Homo sapiens: one gene and its partner. The protein of the gene in region 2 interacts with the protein of the main gene of each other region in a pairwise test. Each region holds a gene or a part of one and is shown on either strand. Other genes may lie near its edges.

What was found.
Region 1: the proteins of NEBL (region 2) and ACAP1 interact in binary tests that used the Homo sapiens proteins (3 or more experiments, as listed by UniProt).

The regions. Positions count from the first base shown.
Region 1 is NC_000017.11:7,342,872-7,346,688, reverse strand, and holds part of ACAP1 (arf-GAP with coiled-coil, ANK repeat and PH domain-containing protein 1), read right to left. Parts: intron 3,311-3,817; coding exon 3,127-3,310; intron 2,984-3,126; coding exon 2,939-2,983; intron 2,829-2,938; coding exon 2,733-2,828; intron 2,641-2,732; coding exon 2,566-2,640; intron 2,151-2,565; coding exon 2,041-2,150; intron 446-2,040; coding exon 394-445; intron 299-393; coding exon 198-298; intron 1-197. UniProt on the Homo sapiens protein: GTPase-activating protein (GAP) for ADP ribosylation factor 6 (ARF6) required for clathrin-dependent export of proteins from recycling endosomes to trans-Golgi network and cell surface.
Region 2 is NC_000010.11:20,827,498-20,831,314, reverse strand, and holds part of NEBL (nebulette), read left to right. Parts: intron 1-8; coding exon 9-119; intron 120-2,680; coding exon 2,681-2,785; intron 2,786-3,817. UniProt on the Homo sapiens protein: Binds to actin and plays an important role in the assembly of the Z-disk. May functionally link sarcomeric actin to the desmin intermediate filaments in the heart muscle sarcomeres.

The DNA of each region.
Region 1 (3,817 bases), on a different chromosome or scaffold from region 2:
TGTACCAGTTGGTAATATTCTCCTAAATATCCCCCATCACCCTGTACCCTCTTCCACAATGGCCCCCCAGTCCAGCCGCCAAAGAATTAAATTAAAGTCTGGAGCTGCATGGGGGGCCTCCATTGTGGTGGGCCCTGCCTTTCAGATTGGCAGTTGTTTAGATATATTAGAGTATCACCCCTGGGGATTGCACTCACTTGCTGGTGGACACCACCTCAAAGCAGAACCGCCTTTCTGAGTCAGGGCAGAGTTTCACTGTGCAGAGACGAAGGTCATCCACCACCACAGTCACAGGGTCCTGGCAGGATAAGGTGATAAGGGGCCAGATGTCCAGCTGCAGGCAAGAGCTGAGTCTCCCTGGGGCCCAGGCATCCAGGACCCAGGTCCACTCACCTTGTACTTCTTCTGGTAAACCAGTTGGTTGCTCTGAATGGTGAACCAGCGTCTGTAAGAGAAGGAAATCATTACAGACATAGGCAGCTTTAGGATGAGGGACGGAAGAGAGGCTGTGCTTTTTGCCCATGAGGATCTTACTGAGAGGACAGACACCTGGGCTGACTGTTCCACGAGACATTCCAGAGAAGGGTGGACAATTGTGCAGATTGGAACATCTAAAGGATGCTATTCCTATCTTGGACAACCCAGATTTCATATAGTTATGAAGACAACTTTCCAGCAGATGGCAGTAAAATTCTTTTTCTAATAAAATGTCTATTGCTACAATTTAAAAAATACTATTTAGGCTGGGCTCACACCTGTAATCCCAGCACTTTGGGAGGCTGATGGGGGTGGTGGATCACCCGAGGTCAGGAGTTTGAGACCACCCTGACCAATATGGTGAAACTCCGTCTCTACTAAAAATACAAAAATTAGCCAGGCGTGGTGGCAGGCGGCTATAATCCCACCTACTTGGGAGGCTGAGGCAGGAGAATCGCTTGAACCCAGGAAGCTGAGGTTGCAGTGAGCTGAGATCGCACCACTGTGCTGCAGCCTGCGCAACATAGCGAGGCTCCATCAAAAAAGAAAAAAAAAGAAAAAGAAAAAAAGAAAAGAAAGAATCTTGGGGGCCAGGTACAGTGGCTCACGCCTGTAATCCCAGCAAGTTGGGAGGCCGAGGCGGGTGGATTGCTTGATGTCAGGAGTTTGCAACCAGCCTGGGCAACATGGTGAAACCCTGTTTCTACCAAAAATACAAAAATTAGCCGAGCGTGATGGCACACGCCTGTGGTCCCAGCTATTTAGGATGCTGAGGAGGGAGGATCACTTGAACTCAGGGGATAGAGGTTGCAGTGAGCCGAGACTGCGCCACTGCACTGCAGGCTGGGCAACAGAGTGACACCCCATCTCAAAAAAAACAGAAAAAAAAAAAGAAAAGAAAAAGAAAAAAGAGTATCTTGGGGAAGCAGCTCCATTTTCTAATTTGTACAGAGATCCCATGTGGGCTAGCAGTGGCCCTAGAAGGGAAAGGAGTCAAGTCACAGCATGCCACCATCCTGTTCCAAACCCTATAGCGGCTCCCAATTGCTCTCAGAGTAGACCCCAAATCCCTACAAAAATCTATAGGGCCCTATAATGACTCATGCCCCCATTAGCTCCGATTTCATCTCCTGCACATCCTCCTCCCTCACTCTGTCCAGACCCAGGGCCACCACCCTGCTCTTCCAACTCCCCAGCTATCTCAGGGCCTTGGCACTGGCTCTTTCTTCTGTCTAGAACTTTCTTCCCCCAGATATCCTTCAAGTCTTTGTTCAAAAGTTACCTTCTCATGAAGCCCACACTGCCCAACTATTTAGAACTGTAACCCCTACCCAGCTCCCCACATCCCTTGCTTTATCATCTTTCTCCTATAGCAAGCACTATCACCTTCTAACATAGCACGTAATTTACATACTAGGTTTATCCTCTGTCTTTGCTGATGGAATGAAACTCTACTGAGGCAGGGGGGTTCGTCTGTTTTTCCTTGCAGTGCTTAGTGTGCTATTACCACTCGAAAATACATCATTGGGTGGGGCGGGCTGATTGGGGGTGTCCTCTCCTCACCTGCTCCAGGTCTTAAATGCGTTGCTGGCCCGTTTGAAGAGATGTCCTTCCATCACCAGGCCACCAGGCCCCTCTCTTAAGCTTGGTTCTGGCTCCTCCCCACCCAGCTCCTGGAGGCACAAGAGGATCAAAGGGCAACTGAGATGGGCAGACACCAAGGCCATAGGCATCTGCCTCCTGCCCACAGCCCTAGCCCTTACTTTCTGCTTTTTGAAATACTTTTTAAAATTTATTTTTAGAGACAGGGTCTTGTTCTTTCACCCAGGCTTAAGTGCAGTTGTGTGATCATAGCTCACTGCAGTCTTGAACTCCTGGGCTCAAGCAATCCTCCCACCTCAGCCTCCTGAGTAGCTAGAACTAGAGGTGCATGCCACCACACCAGCTAATTTTAAAATTTTCTGTAGAGATGGAGTTTCACTACGATGCCTAGGCTAATCTTGAACTCCAGGCCTCAAGCAATCTTCCCACCTCAGCCTCCCAACATGTTGGGATGACGGTCGTGGGCCACCGCACCTGGCCCCTCACCTTCTGTTTCAGCAGCACGTGTCTCTGCTCCATGTCCCTCTTCTCTCGTGCTGAATTCAAGACCAGCTGGTGCAACTGGGCACAGGAAGGGCATCTCAGATGTCCAAGGCCCCCCAGTTAGGAGTCCCTAACCTCCCTCTACCACCTGCTGTGCCCTGGGGCCCCACCTGGGCGCCCAGCTCCTTTCGATACTGGGACAGCCGGCTCAGCTCCTCATGGCCCTGCTGGAAATGGGTAGCCTGGGCCTCCACCAAACGCAGCACCTGGGGGACAAGGCGGGCAGTGGGAAGGCTGAGGAAGAACCCCTCTCCCCATTCCCTTGTGCTGGCAGCAGGCTCTTCTCCACCCTGCCCTCACCCCCGCCACAACTCACAAACTCCATGATGTCAAACTTCCTCTTGTCCTCAATCACGTTGATCTGAGGACGTAAAAGAGGACGTAAAAAACCCCAGATCAGTCTTGAAGACACAGCACCCCTTCCCACTGCACACTGGAGACCCCCAAGCCTCGAGGTGACACTTGAGGCTCTGGTACCCCAGGAAGACAGATTGGGGCAGGCACCTGCAGGGCATAATCCAGTGCCCGTCCCCGGTACCCAGCTCGAGCCGTCCTCAAAGCAGCTCCTGCCTCTTCTGCCTCCTGGGCCCGGCGCCTGGGAACCTCTGCGTTGTGGGTCAGGGCAGCCTCCAGGCTCTCAGCCCCCCGCCAGAAATCCCGGCGAGCCTCTCGGAAACCCCGCAGACCTCTGAGGATGGGAAAATAACACAGAATCGCAGCTAACACCCACCTGCCCCAGCAGAGCATTCCCAGGGTAAAGCCCTCATGTCCTTTCAGTTAGTCTCTGCAACGTGGGAAACCCAAGGTGATCCCTGGGACGGAAGTCAGGACACCAGAAACCCCCAATCTCACAACTCCGTCACTGGGGAGGCTCCTGTGGCCATGGGAAGAGGGCAGCAGGGCTGGTTTCCGAGAAATAAGGCCCCCTTCTCTCCCATCTCACTCCCCCTTTAAAAAATTTTTGTTGTTGTTGTTGTTTTTGTTTTTGAGACCGGGTCTTGCTCTGTTACCCAGGCTGGAGTACAGTGGCACAATCATGGCTCACCGCAGCCCTGACCTCCAGGCTCAAGCAATTCTCCTGCCTCAGCCTCCCAAGAAGCTGGGACAACAGACATGTGCCACCACGCCCGGCTATTTTTTTTTTTTTTTTTTTTTTTTTGAGGCAGAGTCTCACTCTGTTGCCCAGGCTGAAGTG
Region 2 (3,817 bases):
TCTTTTAGAAACAATACAAGAAGGACTTAGAAAATGAAATTAAAGGGAAAGGAATGCAAGTGAGCATGGATATCCCAGATATCCTTCGAGCCAAGAGGACATCTGAAATCTATAGCCAGGTTGGTCATGAATGAAGATGCTCAGAATCGTGTATTCCAATGTCATGTTGCCATGTGCTTTGTATGTCTCTATGAATGATATCTTTCTGAGGGCATTGCATTCAGAGCTAGTGTACTCTTTCACTAAGAAACCATTGGCCAAACTTGATTAACCGTACTAATTAATAGGACAACAGTCATAGATTCAATGCAACAGACATTATGGAGAGCTACAGCCTCTCTGTCGGGGCTCCTTGTTTTGAGTCCAAGGACATTAAACCTTTTTTTTTTTTTTTTTTTTTTTAAATTTTAGAGATGGAGGTCTCACTCTTTCACCCAGGCTGGAATGCAGTGGCACCATCATAGCTTGCTGCAGCCTCAAACTCCTGGGCTCAAGCTTATCTTCCTGCCTCAGTGGGCATGAGCCATTGTGCCCAGCCCAAGGATATTTTAACCTTTTCTTTCTTTCTTTTTTTTTTTTTGACCCTATTGGACACTTGGCTCAAATGCTTTTGCTAATACTACAGAAAAATAAATTACAAACGTTTTGTCTTTTAACCATTTCATAATGAATATTAATATTAAAATAGTTCCAAATAAAGCTAACAGTGGCTAAAGCTGCACAAGGTATAAAGTGAAGTTTAGTGTTAGGTAAAAATTAAGGGAACAGTGAGGTTTTCTTGGTAAAATTTAGATTTGTCAAATATACTTGTCCCATATTCTGTAAACAAAGCTGGATGTGGGAGAAGTAGTGACCACAAAAATTTATGGAAGAAGAATTTATTTATAAAATCTGACTTGGGCAAAAACATTCATTAGCAAATAATATCTTTGCTGTAACATTTACTAAAAAAGAATGACTCCCAATGGAAAAAAATAGAAGGAATGAAAAAAATGAAAATGGTTATTTAAAATTGACCATAGCATTTAATTTGATTAATGGAGTTTATGCAGAAAGGATTGTGTAACAACATTTGGTGAAATTTGTTAAAATTCTGATTAAGACATAAGCAAGGACATTAACCATCCACTAGTTCAAAAGGGTAGTATCAAGATGGCAGAGTCAAATGTCAGAGGACTTGTGTGCCTCTCAGCCTCCGCAGCCGACACAGCCGCTGGGATGATCCTGAAGTGTGTGTTCTGTTCTCAGTGTTCGTGAACTTGGAGACATTGGCTTGGCCATATCAGCTTAACTAAAATCCTAAGTCAATGCATTAAACAACAAATAGACATTTGAGTCAGTGGAGAAGAGTTACTTACTCTCTCAAGAATGCCAAATTCATTCCTTCAGTAGGTAAATACCTCCTGAGCACCCATTTGCAGGCAAAACTAGACATGGCTTTGCTCTTGGAAAGCTACAGATAAATCTAATAATCATGTAAATATAGTATTACAACCATGATATATACACCTGAAAGTAAAAGTATTGAGAGTGAAGGTGCCTGAGCTGTCAGATTTCCTGCATTAACTCAACAGCATAGATTTTTTTTTAGTGTGGTGTGAGAATATATCTAATTTTAAGGGATTTTAATCACTGAAATACAATTGGGATACTTACGAGGGTGTAATGAAGCCTGGTGCATTTCAACATGAATAGTAGTTACCTTTCTTTTTTTTTAATTTTATTATTATTATACTTTAAGTTTCAGGGTACATGTGTACAATGTGCAGGTTAGTTACATATGTATACATGTGCTATGCTGGTGCGCTGCACCCACTAACTCGTCATCTAGCATTAGGTATATCTCCTAATGCTATCCCTCCCCCCTCCCCCTACCCCACAACAGTCCCCAGAGTGTGATGTTCCCCTTCCTGTGTCCATGTGTTCTCATTGTTCAATTCCCACCTATGAGTGAGAATATGCAGTGTTTGGTTTTTTGTTCTTGCAATAGTTTACTGAGAATGATGATTTCCAATTTCATCCATGTCCCTACAAAGGACATGAACTCATCATTTTTTATGGCTGCATAGTATTCCATGGTGTATATGTGCCACATTTTCTTAAGTAGTTTGCCAGAATAATTAACTTCACTGATTTTGGAATCAGAGAGCCTGGTTTTAAGTTGAGGCTCTGATACTTACTATCTAGTACTTCAGTTTCTCCATCTGTAAGATGGAAATAATAATAGTATCTGCTTGTCAGGTTGATTAAATGAGTTAGTGTGTGTTAAGTATTTAGAACAATACCCATTACATAGTAAGTACAATGTAAGTGCTGGTACTAGGATAAGATATTGCCTGGGTTGTATTAGAGCTCATAGTAGCTCATTTAGTGGAGAGAAAATTAAGATTTTAATCTCAACTTCAAAATACTGTTAACTTTCCCTTAATCAAATCTATCTTCACATGAAGTAGGAAGCAAAGCGTAAATCTAGAAGCCATGTCGTATGGTAGAGATCGAAGAATGGTATCATTCTATCTCTGTCTCTCCACCTCTCTCTCTCTCTCTCTGGGAGTGTAAGTCAGTAAAAACAGTTTTTTACTCTCTCTCTCTCCCTTCCTCCTTTCCTGCCTCCCTCCCTCCCTCTCACATGTGCGCACACACATAGTTTCAGATTTATATTAACTGTTTATGTTTTTAGAGAAAGTATAAAGATGAAGCAGAGAAGATGCTTTCTAACTATTCTACCATAGCAGATACTCCTGAAATTCAGAGAATTAAGACAACTCAACAAAACATTAGTGCGGTGAGTAGCCATTACTTCTTTTAAGTTGCCACCTTGAAATTTTGTTTTGTAAGAAATGGTCTTTTTTCCTCATTGTCTGATGTTTTCTGCTGTCTTAGTTGAATTTTCTGTCAAGTGTATTATCTTTATTTCTTTAAAATAATAAGAATACTGATAATTTTTACAAATTATCATTTTTCATTATTTTTTTGGAATTACAAATTCAAAATTTCCTCTTCGGTATAAATGACAGTTATTAACTAAATTTTAAAATTTAACTCAGGAAAGAAGTCTGTCTTCTACACAGATTTTACTTTGAAGGTGAAAATAGTCATATGAAGTGATTTTATTCCTGGTTATTGATTGTTTTTACTGATAATATGTCTAACCATTTACTCATTCTTAATAAATTTCTAAACTTCTATATTTTTATTTTGAGGAAGAGGAATTGCATCAGCACTTTTTTTTTTAACTTTTATTTTAAGTTTGGGGGTACCTGTGCAGGTTTTTACATAGGTAAACTTGTGTCATAGGGGTTTGTTGTACGATTATTTTGTCACGCAGGTGTTAAGCCTAGTACCCATTAGTTATTTTTTCTGATCCTCTCCCTCCCCTCCTTCTTCACCCTCTGATAGGCCCCTGTGTGTGTTGTTCGCCTCTGTGTGTCCATGTGTTCTCATCATTTAGCTCCCACTTATAAGTGAGAAAATGCGGTATTTGGTTTTCTGTTCCTGCATTAGTTTGCTAAGTATAATGGCATCTAGCTCCATCCATGTCCCTGCAAAGGCCATGATCTCATTCTTTTTTATGACTGCATGGTATTCTGTGGTGTATATGTACCACATTTTCTTTATCCAGTCTATCATTGATGGGCATTCAGGTTGATTCCATGTCTTTCCTATTGTAAATAGTGCATCAGCACTATTAATTAAGAGGCTGAGTCCATTAATAAATGTATAAACTTGACTTCTGTTCTAAAATTGTAAAAATTGACCATACAACTAATATTTTAACATAGAATTAGCTCAGTCATTAATAGTTAAGGAAGCATCT